2 linked regions of the Homo sapiens genome follow. The protein of the gene in region 1 purifies or fractionates together with the protein of each later gene. This does not show direct contact. Each region holds a gene or a part of one and is shown on either strand. Other genes may lie near its edges. The genes, in order: GNLY and GID4.

What was found.
Region 2: the proteins of GNLY (region 1) and GID4 purify together in Homo sapiens (co-immunoprecipitation; 2 studies listed by BioGRID and IntAct, with this or other methods). This does not show direct contact.

The regions. Positions count from the first base shown.
Region 1 is NC_000002.12:85,690,327-85,697,480, forward strand, and holds the start of GNLY (granulysin isoform 2 precursor), read left to right. Parts: upstream 1-4,031; 5' UTR 4,032-4,092; coding exon 4,093-4,144; intron 4,145-4,426; exon of another isoform or gene 4,427-4,589; coding exon of another isoform or gene 4,590-4,670; intron 4,671-4,993; coding exon 4,994-5,097; intron 5,098-5,631; coding exon 5,632-5,730; intron 5,731-6,661; coding exon of another isoform or gene 6,662-6,754; exon of another isoform or gene 6,755-7,058; intron 7,059-7,154.
Region 2 is NC_000017.11:18,063,360-18,069,012, forward strand, and holds the end of GID4 (glucose-induced degradation protein 4 homolog), read left to right. Parts: intron 1-1,820; coding exon 1,821-1,884; 3' UTR 1,885-5,046; downstream 5,047-5,653.

The sequences.
Region 1 (7,154 bases):
CTTTTGTGTTTGGCTTACTTCGCTTGGCATAATTATTTCAAGGTTCATTCATGTTGTAGTATGTATCAGAACTGTGTTCCCTTTTTAGGCTGAATCATATTCCATTGTATATGTAGAGCACATTTTGTTTATGCACTTTTTAAAATTTTAATTTTAATTTTTCTTAGAGACAGGCTCTCACTCTGTCATCCAGGCTGGAGTGCAGTGGCATGACCTTGGCTCACTGCAGCCTCGACTTCCTGGGCTCAAGCAATCCTCTCACCTCAGCCTCCTGAGTAGCTGGGAGTACAGGCACATGCCACCATGCTCAGCTAATTCTTAACTTTTTCTGTAGAGCTGGGGTCTACTATGTTGCTCAGGGTGGCCTCAAACTCCTGGCCTCAAGCCATCTTCCCACCTTGGCCTCCCAAAGTGCTGGGATTACAGGTGTGAGCCACTATGCCCGGCTTGTTTATCCATTTATTTGTCAATGGACACCTGGGCTCTTTCCATCTTTTGGCTACTGTGAATAATGCTTCTATGAACATTGATGTACAAGTATCTGTTTCAATCTACTTTTATTTCTTTTGGGTGTCTACCTAGGAGTGGAATTGCTGGGTTACATGTCTGTGAACATTCTTGTATAAATCTGTGTATGTAGAGGTGTTTTCATTTAGTTTGGGTAAATACATAGAAGTGAAATTGTTGAGTCACAGGGCAGGTGTACGCTCAACTTTCTGAAAAACCGTCAATCCAATTTTCAGTTATTAGTGTTTTATATTCCCACCAACAATGCTTAAGAGTACCAGTTGCTCCACAGACACATCAGCATTTGGGTTTTCTGTCTTTTTAATTTTAGTCATGTTGATGCATCATCTCAGTATAGTTTTAATATAGAATTTCTTGGCCAGACGCAGTGGCTCATGCGTGTAATCCCAACACTTTGGGAGGCTGAGGTGGGTGAATCACTTGAGATCAGCAGTTCAAGACCAGCCTGGACCAAGATGGTGAAACCCCATCTCTACCAAAAATACAAAAATTAGCCAGGTTTGGTGGTGTGTGCCTGTAATCCCAGCTACTCAGGAGGCTGAGGCAGGAGAATTGCTTGAAGCCGGGAGACAGAGGTGGCAGTGAGCCGAGATCACGCCACTGCACTCCAGCCTGGGCGACAGAGTGAGGATCCATCTCAAAAAAAAAAAAAAGGAATTTCTTTGTGATTTACGATGTTGAGCAGGTTTTCAAATGTTTTGGTCATTCTTATCTTCCTTTGCGAATTACCTGTTCAAATATTTTGCCCATTTAAAAAATTGGATTGCTTTATTATTATTATTGCAGTAGCAGTTGATATAATAAGGAGTCCGTAAACAGACCCACAGTCAATTGATATTCAACCAACGTGCCAAAGCAATTCAATGGGAAAAGAAAAATCTTTTCAAGAAATTGATATGAAGAAACAAAACCTCAACCCAGCTCACACTATACATTAATTTGAGATGAGTCATAGACCTAAATGTCAAAGTTAAAATTATAAAAGTTCTAGAAAAAAACATAGAGGTGATTTTTATGATAGCGTAAGTGAAGATTTCCTGAAGAAGATACAGCAGGCAATATTTCTTTTCTTTTCTTTTTTTTGAGACGGAGTCTCGCTCTGTCGCCAGGCTGGAGTGCAGTGGCGCGATCTCGGCTCACTGCAAGCTCCGCAGAAGGCAATATTTCACAGAGGAATTCTTTGTGGGCCTGGGCCTGACTTGCAATGGGCCAGTTCCTGGGGTACCATGGGTGGGAATTGGGTAAAACTTACCCCAGGTTCTTATCACACGGGACCCCAGAGGCCTGGGTGGAGGCTTGTGACTAACTACATGAGCTTTGCCACGTACTCCTCAATACCTCTGACAAGGACTTACTGCAGTGTTTGGTCTCACCAAGTTTCCCACAATAAAGAGACATGAGTCACCTTTCAAGACCCTTTACCCCCAAGAATGTGGTCTTCACACATGAGACCAAGGTCTACAAGTGGTCAGGAGAGAGGGGGTCTGCTCAGATGGGGGAGTAGTGCCTGAGCTGGCCTCAAGAGGGTTAAGTGGCCCTGCACTGAAAACCTGGACACTGAGTTAGGGTAGGGCTGGGGGAAAACTTGGGCTTTGGAGTCGTAGGGTCTGGGTTCAAATCCACAGACCATTCCCTTCCTAGCTGTGTGTTGGTGGGTAATTCACTGGATCTTTCTGAGTCCTGGTTTCCTCATCTGAGGTAAAACGAGTTTGCCGGTTGGTCTGAGAGCTGTTCTAGGCATGGTGGGGAGACCCTGACAGGCAGAGGCAGCCCTGCTCTCAAGCAGTTGATTTACAGCTGGGGAAACAAGACAGCCACAAATGCAATACCTCAAACTCAACTTCTCACCAGAAAGCTCCTTTTCCTAATTTTCACAGCCAGTCCCTCAGCCTCCTGGGCCCCAAATACTAGTAAAACCTTTGCCTCCTCTCTCTTCTTTCTTTCTTGTAATCATATAGGTACAAAGTCCTACCAATTCTTCCTGAAATATGTTTCCTTATCAAAAAGTCCTGCAAAGCCGTGCGTGGTTGCTCATGCCTATAATCCCAGCACTTTGGAGGCTGGGAGGATCGCTTGAGTCCAGGAGTTCGAGACCAGCCTGGACAACATATGGAGACCCATCTCTACCAAAAATTTTAAAATCAGCAGGGGTGGTAGTGGCAAGCACCTGTGGTCTCATCTACTTGGGAGGCTGAGGTGGGGGGATTGTTGGAGCCTGGGCGGTTGAGGCTGCAGTGATCTGTGATTGCACCACTGCACTCTAGCCTGAGGTACAGAGCAAGAACTTGTATCAGAAAAAAAAAAAAAAAGTCCTGCGGTAGCTGACACTGCCATTGCCTATACGATTCCCATTCCCTCATCCTCCCTAGCAGGATATCAATTTTGTTCGAAGTGTCAATGAAGGCCAGGTGCGGTGGCTGATGCCTGTAATCCTAACACTTTGGGAGGCCGAGGCAGGCGGATCACCTGAGGTCAGGAGTTCAAGACCAGCCTGGCCAACATGGTGAAACCCTGTCTCTACTAAAAACACACAAATTAGCAGGGCATGGTGGCGTGCACCTGTAATCCCAGCTACTCAGGAGGCTGAGACAGGAGAATCACTTGAACCCGGAGGTGGAGGTTGCAATCAGCCAAGATCACACCACTGCACTTCAGCTTGGGTGACAAGAGTGAAACTCTGTCTCAAAAAAGAAAAACAAAACAAAAACAAACAACAACAACAAAAAGCAAAGTGTCAGTGAAGGTCCAGCAAAAGACTCCCTTCCTATTGCCCTTTGCAGCCAGGGTCATCATGTGACACAGTTCAGATCAATGAGATGGAGGCTGAGGGTCCCTGGGAAAGATGTTTTTCCTATACAGGTACCACCTCTTTCAGCTTCACTCTTTCCATTTTCCACGTGAACAGGCCTTGTAGCCTGGAGGAGCTACAGCTGCCTTTTTGAGATGCTGAGGCACCCTGTCTGAAGAAGGCCCTCACATCACTCAACTTGACTACTGGGTGAGCCCTTGGAGAGGCTTCCCAGCCTCTGCTCTTCAAGCCGAAGTACCACAGGGGACACGAGTCCCAGAGTTACAGGACCCCAGCTATGGTTCATGTGTAAAGGGAACCATTAGGCAACCAGGGGAAATGATGAAGAAGATCTACATTTACAAATGTGGAAAGATGTTCGTGGTATATTGTTAAATTAAAAAGCTGTTTAAAAATAGTTTTTGGGTCAAGTGAGATGACTCACTTATACTTTTAGTATAAGTATGTCCCATGCAATATCTGGAACGTACTTGTACTAAGGGGTTTCTCCCTCCATCGGCACATCCCAGGCATCCTGGCAGCTGCTGGCCTCCAGCAACCCCACATTCTAGTTGTGTGGGAGTGGGGTGTGGCATGGACCCTGTGGGCTACCACTGCCCTGAGCTGCTTCTTCACACACTGGTATTTGTATCTGTGGTAAACCCAGTGACACGGGGGAGATGACATACAAAAAGGGCAGGACCTGAGAAAGATTAAGCTGCAGGCTCCCTGCCCATAAAACAGGGTGTGAAAGGCATCTCAGCGGCTGCCCCACCATGGCTACCTGGGCCCTCCTGCTCCTTGCAGCCATGCTCCTGGGCAACCCAGGTAAGGCCTTCCCCTCGGGATCGATCCTGATGGCCCACCCAGCCTCGCACTCTCAGGCTGGCTGAACCTGGAGCTTGGACTCTGTGGGCACCCAGGTGCCCCTGCCTCCCCCCGGCCTTCTCCCCCGTCATGGAGGCCTGGCCTCCCCTCAGAGCCAGGCTTAGTCCAGTGTGCTGCCCAGCCTGTCACTGGCCTGGCCAAGGAGGAGAGACAGGCCAGGGATTCTGGTCCTAACTCTACTGGCCACACTGTGTGGCCTGAGACCCCCCTTTCCCTCCCAAGCCCCTGCCTCCGCATCTGCGTGGTGAAGGCCATTGGCCCTCATCGGTGGATCTGCGTTTCCTCGGGCCTACACTGTCTAGGATTGTGCGGGGCTGGTGAGAGAACAAGATCTCTTCTGTGTTCAAGGCAGACTTCCTGCCCCCTGCACCCTGCTCTCTCCCAGGCCTTGAGGTCAGTGTGAGCCCCAAGGGCAAGAACACTTCTGGAAGGGAGAGTGGATTTGGCTGGGCCATCTGGATGGAAGGTAAAAAAAGAAAATCCCTTGAAAGGAGATTGAGGGAAGTTTCTAGACAAACCGACCCCCAAATCTGTGTTGCTGGGGGAACAGAGGAGAAGAGAGAGTCTCGCCCTCCTGGCTTTCTAGAAGGAACGTGAGAACACGTGTTTGTGCTGAGAGTGGGTCAGAGCGGCTCCAGGGCAAAGCATGTGGACAGGTATCCTGGCCCCCTGCAAGGCCCAGCTCCTGTCCTAGGCCCTGGTCACCTCCTGGACTCCCACCAGCCAGGAGAACGGGCTTTCCCTCTCCTTCCGCCTGCGGAGGGGAAGCTGAAGTCTGGTCTTCCTCAGGTCTGGTCTTCTCTCGTCTGAGCCCTGAGTACTACGACCTGGCAAGAGCCCACCTGCGTGATGAGGAGAAATCCTGCCCGTGCCTGGCCCAGGAGGGCCCCCAGGTACGTGTTGGCTCTCTGCTCACCTGCCACAGTCCCTCTCCTTTCCCTCCTCCCTGGTGGCTCCTGGGGTGAGGTCTGGAGCTCTCTAATGGTCAGGAGGTGGGAGTGGAGGCTGGGCTGTTTCTGACGATGCTGGTTTTGTTGAATTCATGTCTGGCCAGGAGGGCTACAGGTATCTGGCAGACTCCTCCAGGAGGATCCTCTGGGGTCTCACCCTCCAAGGAGCCTGGGGCTGCAGAACCCAAATAGGCAGACTCCCCTGGGAGTTCCTCAATAGGAGAGGGGCAAGTGCAGGGCTGGGAAAGTACTGGGGGTGTGGGAGGCTGTTTCTGGGGTGTCTCAGAGCCTCTAAGACAAGCAAAAGGGTGGGCAGGGGCCAGGCAGCCAGTTCAGGCCTTCAGTGTATCCACGCTCTGGGAAGAGATCACGGACATTCCTGCCGGCCTCAGAAACACAAAGGGCCCCTTTCCTGGGCACTTTCACGCGCTCCCAGAGTGTCTGAGAGACCATCATAAGGGCTTTCTTTCCTGACAGGGTGACCTGTTGACCAAAACACAGGAGCTGGGCCGTGACTACAGGACCTGTCTGACGATAGTCCAAAAACTGAAGAAGATGGTGGATAAGCCCACCCAGGTGAGGCCAAGGGGCTACAGAGCCTCCTGTCTGCTGCTCAATGGAGGGGCCAGCCTGTGACCAGGTCGGGGATCGGGGAGCCCGGGGGCACCTTGCACAGTGATCCTGGGGGAGGGCTTCCTAGAAGGGAATCTGTGAGTCCCCGTGTGTCTGTGGATGAATTTCAGAGAACTTGTGAAATTGTGACTCTCTGGAACTGTGTAAGTCAGACGGCAGAGTATACATGGTTTTCATCATGTATCCTCAAAGAGGGCTTGTCCCAGAGAAGTTAGGAATCTTCCCCTAAAGCCCTAACATTTGTGTCCAAGGCAGAGTTTGAGAAGCTAGTTCCCCAAGAGGCCTGGGTCAGGACTGATAAATCCCAGATCTGCTACTTCCAAGCTGCATGGCCTTGGGCAAGTCACTTCCACTTTCTGAGCCTCTGTTATCTTATCTTTGAAATGTGATGGATAATAGTCCCTATCTTGCAAGTTGTCAAACCCTTTTTTTTTTTTTTTCCTTGAGATAGGATCTTACTCTGAGACCCAGGCTGGAGTGCACTGGTGTGATCTTGGCTCACTGCAACCTCTGCCTCCCTGGCCCAAGCAATTCTCCTGTCTAAGCCTCCTGAGTACCTGGGGCTCCAGGTGTGCGCCACCATGCCCAGCTAATTTTTGTACTTTTGTAGAAACAGGGTCTCACTGTGTTGCCCAGGCTGGTCTCCAACTTCTGAGCTGAAGCAATCCACCTGCCTTGGCCTCCCAAAGTGTGGGATTACAGGCATGAGCCACTGCACCTGGCTGCTGAAGCTTTTTAAAAGAGCTGAGGGCTGGGATGTACTTAGCTCCACGTCCAGCACTGAGTAAATGCTTAACGAATGACTGTGTTACTACCAAGAATTATTGTTTCACTCTCCCTCCTTCCCTCTCCTCTGCTGCCCCAAACTACTCAGCATCCTGGCACTGCAGGCTCGCACTTAGCCCTGGATACCCAGATTCATCCTCCTCCCCTGGGATGGCATAGAAGAGACTTTAAAACCAAATGAGCCAAGACTCCAAGCTCTGACCACACCTCCCACCCCACCAGTCTTCTCTATGCACCCCCTCTATCTGGAGCCCCCAGCCAGGTCCTGGACCCAGGTAGCTACATGGCAGAGCATTTAATGTGTGCCTGGCAGCCATGGGCACCATTCTCCACACAGAAGGCAGGGGACAGGTGCACAAGGCGCTGAGACCCCAGCAGGGCTAACTGTCCTTGTCTCAGGAGCCCTACCTGGCCAGTCTTGGGCCAGGCCTTGGGGACTGGGAGTAGGGGCTGAGCCCCGTCTGTACAGTCTCTGGCCCCATGGGCACCAGGTGCCAGCTCCTCGCACCCAGTACTCCCATTGCTAGGGCTGCTGGAACCTGCAGGGTGGCAGAGCTGGGCAGGACTCACCCTATAACCAT
Region 2 (5,653 bases), on another chromosome or scaffold:
AGATTGCACCACTGCACTCCAGCCTGGGCGACAGAGTGAGACTGCATCTCAAAAAAAAAGTGTACAAGTCAGTGATCTTTCCTATATTAATAGAGTTGTCTAACTATCAAGTTTAGAACATTTTCATCACCATAAGAGGAAACCCCATACCCTTAGCCATTATCCCAAACTCCTCATCCCCTCTGAGCCCTGGGCAACCACTAGTCTTTCTCTTATGTATGTATAGATTTGCCTATTCTGGGTATTTTATATAAATGGAATCTACAAAATACGGCCCTTGCTTCTGGCTTTTTTCACTTAGCATAATGCTTTGAAGGTTCATTCATGTTGTACCATGTATCAGAACTTCTTTTTTATTGCCAATTAATTTTCCATTACAGGTATATACAACTTTTTTTTTGAAACAAAGTCTCGCTCTTGTCCCCCAGGCTGGAGTTCAGTGGCACGATCTCGGCTCACTGCAACCTCCGCCTCCCAGGTTCAAGCAATTCTCCTGCCTCAGCCTCCCGAGTAGCTAGGATTACAGGCGCCTGCCACCACGTCTGGCTAAGTTTTGTATTTTTAGTAGAGACGGGGTTTTGCCATGTTGGCCAGGCCTGTCTCGAACTCCTGACCTCAGGTGTTCCACCCGCCTCGGCCTCCCAAAGTGCTGGGATTATAGGTGTGAGCCACCGTGCCCGGCCGGTATATACCACATTTTATTTATCCATTCATTATTTAGTGGACACTTAGATTGCTTCCATTGTTTAGCTCTTGTGAATAATGCTGCTGTGAACATGGGTATATCTGAGTTCCTGCTTTCAATTCCTTGGACATATACCTAGGAGTGAAATTGCTAGGTCATACGGTATTGCTATATTTAACTTTATGAGGAACTGCCAAACTGTTTCCCACAGCAGCTGCACCATTTTGCATTCCTACCGGCATGTATGAGGGTTCCAGTTTCTCCACATCCTCCCTGGCACTTGTTATCATGTCTCTATAATTATAGCTACCCTAGTGGATGTGAAGCAGTATTTCATTGTAGTTCTAATTTGCATATTTTTGATGGCTAATGCATATTTCTTTCCTGATAATTTGTTTTTGGTAAGAAATAAGCCGCTTTTTCCTACGTTCTTCCACACTCCTGTATGAAACAAGTAGGGGAGAGCCAACTTGCTAGACATTGACTCTAAATGTGCCCGAGGTTGTCATCCCAGCATGTAGATTGTCTGCCCCTATTTCTCCTCCCTCTGCATGACTCCCTGGATCACCTGCCAACAGGGGAGGCAAACACCTCAGATATCACTAATGTTTTCCAAGCCTAATACCGTACCTAGGAAAGTGAGAAAATTTAAATGAAAGGTAAAATACAGTTTAAGGCAGTAGTGAAATGAATTTTTCTACGCTCTCTTTAGATACCATGAGAATCAGTTTATGCCTATGCTAGCCATAAAGTTCTTAGGATATGAGAGCCTGGCATTACATGCTACAGCAGGAGAGGTCAGAGCAGCCGGTGAGGTTAGGGCTTGGGCGTGGGTCTCCATCTTCTCCCACAGCTTATTGAGGTCTCCTTTTTATAAAACATACCATAGTTAACTTCATGATTAGAGCAGAATGAAAAAAAACATTCATCTAGTGCATGGTTCAGGAGGATTAACCAAAAAAAGAAAGAATGAATGAAATCAAACTAGGTTCAACTTGAGAAATAGAAAATGAATGTGCATTTCAGTCCAAGTATGTGACTTGTTGGGTGCTCTGCTTTTTGAGGGGTTACTAATGTCCTTTGCTCAGGGTGCATTAGATGACTACCTCCCGTTTCTGTCTCCTCCCCCTTGCAGGTATCAGTCCCTCAATCTAACCCATGTTCCTGAACACAGTGCACCCATCTATGAATTCCGGTGACAACGGTTCAGAACAGCAACCAAATAAAACTGAACTTGGCAAAAAAGAACTTTGCCGAGAAAATTGTGTACCTGCCAGAACCAGGAGAAGTGTGTTCCTGTTTCTTCACGAGCAGACTCGCATCACAAAGCATGAATGTTAACCCACAGAATCCAAGGAGCATGGCTGGCCCGTGGGGCAGGTGGAGGGAGCAGTCTTCGTTCTTCCTCCCCTCAGTGGCAGTTTGGTCTTCACCTGTTTTTAAGCTACCTTAAACGCACTTTTCCTTCCTGCACAGCTAACTTCTACATCACTGAAATGCCCATTCCTTCCTCCGTCCCACCTCCAGCCGAATAGAAGGTCTGCTCCCGGATCACCCTCAGCCTTGGTGCTCAGTGGTCCCGAGGCCCTAGACCCCCACCCCCCGCCAGTTGCTTTGTCTGGTAGCTCAAGAGAAGGCAGAGCCCCAGCACCTCTGTGCCCCCCAGAGCTCTGTGCAGGGAGTTGGCCAGCTGCCGCATCATCGGCCACCAAGGGCACAAGAGGCGGAGGCTCCAGTCCCTGCTGGGCTGCCTCAGTCTTCAGTGCTGATTGTGTCACGGGTCAGCGTGCGCTGCTGAGCCCTGTACTGTTAACAGTGCAAAGCTAGTGAGTAGCTGTCAGGTTCCCTGGGCCTGCCATCAGGGATCACTAAATTTAAGGCTTCCAGATCCCTGGCAGGAACAGATTCCAGTCCTGCTTACTCAGTACATTTGCTCCAAACTTTTCAACTTGAGGGCAATACTAAACTTAAAAATAAGAGTTTTTTTATTACAAAATTATTTTTATGGTCCCTTTAACGAGGACCCTATGGCAAATGCACAATTATTCAGAATTACATTTTATCGTTTTCACATTGAAAACAGCAAATGTTGACTTAGTAATTTTTATATCGATATCTATATGTATATGTATATTTAATCAACCAGCAGTTTTGAAACTAGTCATCCTGGTACAAAAGTTTTGCAGCATTGCCTAAATTATAGTGCTCAACACAAGAACTGTTTTTGGGGCCAGTTTAGCATTTGTGCCGCCTCCTTTTGCTACTCAAAACAGCAATGCTTGGCGGCAGCCTTCCATGAGGCAGAAGGGGTCGTCGTTCTCTGAAAACAGTGACTCTGAAATGTTGGGACAGGGGAAGGGGTGGGAAACATGAACATGCTCAAATAACTCGAGGCTCACGTGCCAAAGTGTGTGTGTGTGTGTGTGTGTGTGTGTGTGTGTATGATGTTTTGTTTTTTTAAATGTTTTAAAAGCTTAATAGGTTGGCATCAGTTGTAGCCCACAAACATGGCTAGGGCTTTGGGGATTTGGCATTTTTCTGGTGGTTTACAAGACTTACTCCGAATACAAGAGGAAAAGCTTTAAAAACAAGATTGCATCATAACCCCCAGGAGCAAAGCAACCTGGAGGCTGCATATCCATGGGCGGGCAGCATAAGAGAATGTGAAGCCCTTCAGTGAGACGAGACGAGCAATGGGAAACCTTTTCTGTTCTTAAGAAGTGACTTTAATTTTATTGACATATGTACTGTATGTTACTGAGATTGAATGTTAGGGGAAGCCTTAAGGTAGAGGTATTTGGGAAAGTAGCCAGTGGGCACTTGTGATATCTAAAATCTGTTATCCCAGGACTGTGTACAGAGGGGCAACCTACCCATTCAGGAAGGTCAGGGCTTTGGAACCCTAAAAAGTTGGCCCGATGACTTAAAGGGAAAAATAATTCATTCCCAGAGATGAGTCAGAACAGTCTCCTCAATCCTGAAATTCAACAAGGCATCAGAAGGGCTGGCTGTGGTCAAGCCCAGCTGCTGTCATGTGAGGAGATGCTCACTGTGGTCTTGTTGAGCTGATGGCCTTGGTTGAGCTGATGGACAAGTGAAGGAGGCCATGGGGCTGTGCTGTCCTTCCTGCCGTACGTGCCATTCCACTCTCTTCAGCTCTCCCCTCAACAGCATGCGAGCCCATACCTTCTGCATTTTTCCAGGCCTGTGAGGGATATAGGCCTCCCCTTGGAGCACTGAGTCCGGAGGTCATCCCTGAGCTCATCCACGGCTCATGCTGTGGCTCCGAGTAGTGGTTTGAGTGGGCAGGAAGGGCCATTTGCAAACACTGCTGTGTTCTAGACAAACAACCCAAGTCCTATGGCAGGATTTCTTCCTTCCTTCCTTTTTTACCCAGGTGATGAAGTGCACCCATTGTACTGGGAAGAATGAAGAGGTGATACCTTTACTAGATCCTTCAGACACATCTATGAGAAGATTTGTTCATTTAAAAGTCTGCCCACTGAGGATAGGGAAAGGATTAAGGATTTTTCCACCTCCTCTTAGTAACTCCTGAATTACCAACATCAACTTCTTTCTCTCCGTTCCTGAAGGAACTTTGGGGAATCATCTTCATCCGTAGTTACGCTTTCCTGAACCTTCTCAGTGGTTTACATGCCTCTGAAACTATGTGCAATATTTTTGGTTGACACTTGTATCCATCCTTAAGAAATTAGTGCAGATTGCAGATGTTCTGTCTTCCATCCCAAACAAGCCTGCCATGAGGTAGGATCCTAGGGGTTTGGCTGTTCTTACTCCACTGCTCAGAAAGCTTCCATTCTGCTGTCCTCAGCCTCGACCCTCTTCTGTGCTGGACTTCCACCCACCCACCCTTTTCAAGTTTAGATAGTGTTTCAGCTGCTGTCCCAAAGTAACAAAACAATACCTACTGTTAAGTAGGAAGTCAATCTGTGTGCTGGTTTTGTTGGTTATGTGGAAATCACAAACTCCAGAGGAGCAAAGGGGTTTTTCAATGTCTTTTGCTTTCAGAAACAGAGAATATAATATTCTCACTAAGGCCTTGAATTGATTTTTTTCTCATAAAATAGTCTGATAAGCTAATTTTTAAAAAGAAATGCCATTAACTGTGTTGTATCGTGGTTTAAAATTACTAACAAGTTGTGGGAAAGAAAAATAATATTTGATTTTGAATCTTAAATGTTTTTAAAAATTAGACTTGAATGGGCACAAAGTATAAATATTTTGTTTCTTTATGGAGGACATGTGGAAGGAGTTTGAGGGTTTGGGATGGGAGAAGTATTTTGCAGAGCTATCAATGTCCAAATAATTTAAAAAAAAAAATAAAGGTATTTAAGCAGTGAGTTTGTCCTATTTGTAAACCAAAGCAGCTCCATTAGAGGAAAGCAGTCCTCTCTGGGCCTGTGGCTGTGGAGCTCTCCAGGGCCAGCCGGAGACCTCTGTGTGCCAGGGCAAACCGAGGGCCCCTCTGGGCAACTGTTGCAGTGGTCTGCTTGCTCCTTTTTCATTCTGAATGTTTTCAGCTGCTCAGCACTTCTATTCAAGCTCCATTTTGTTAATTTCTGTATTTCTTCAGAAATGTGGAAGCATTTTTTTTTTCCATATGTGAAGGGTTTATATTTCTATTTAACACAGAGAAAATGTGCAGGCAGAGGTATCTGTCCAAAGCCTGCTTTGTGTTCTGGTGTGGGGACAGGCAATGCTGTTGGGCTGCTCTCGACACTGTGACTGTGGTCCTCAGAGAAGATGCCTAAGTCTCAAAGCACAGGCACTTGGACCCCCAAATAGCAGGATCCCTAAATCAGCCATTACAGTTTATTCTGACAAACCATTCTGTTACGTTTCAGGTCCCACCTCCCTAGGAGGCTTGAAGGAACATGACTGGAAACATGGGAGATTTTGAGGAAACATATAAAGTGTTGAGGTCTAAATTTTAAGCAAGTTGAAATG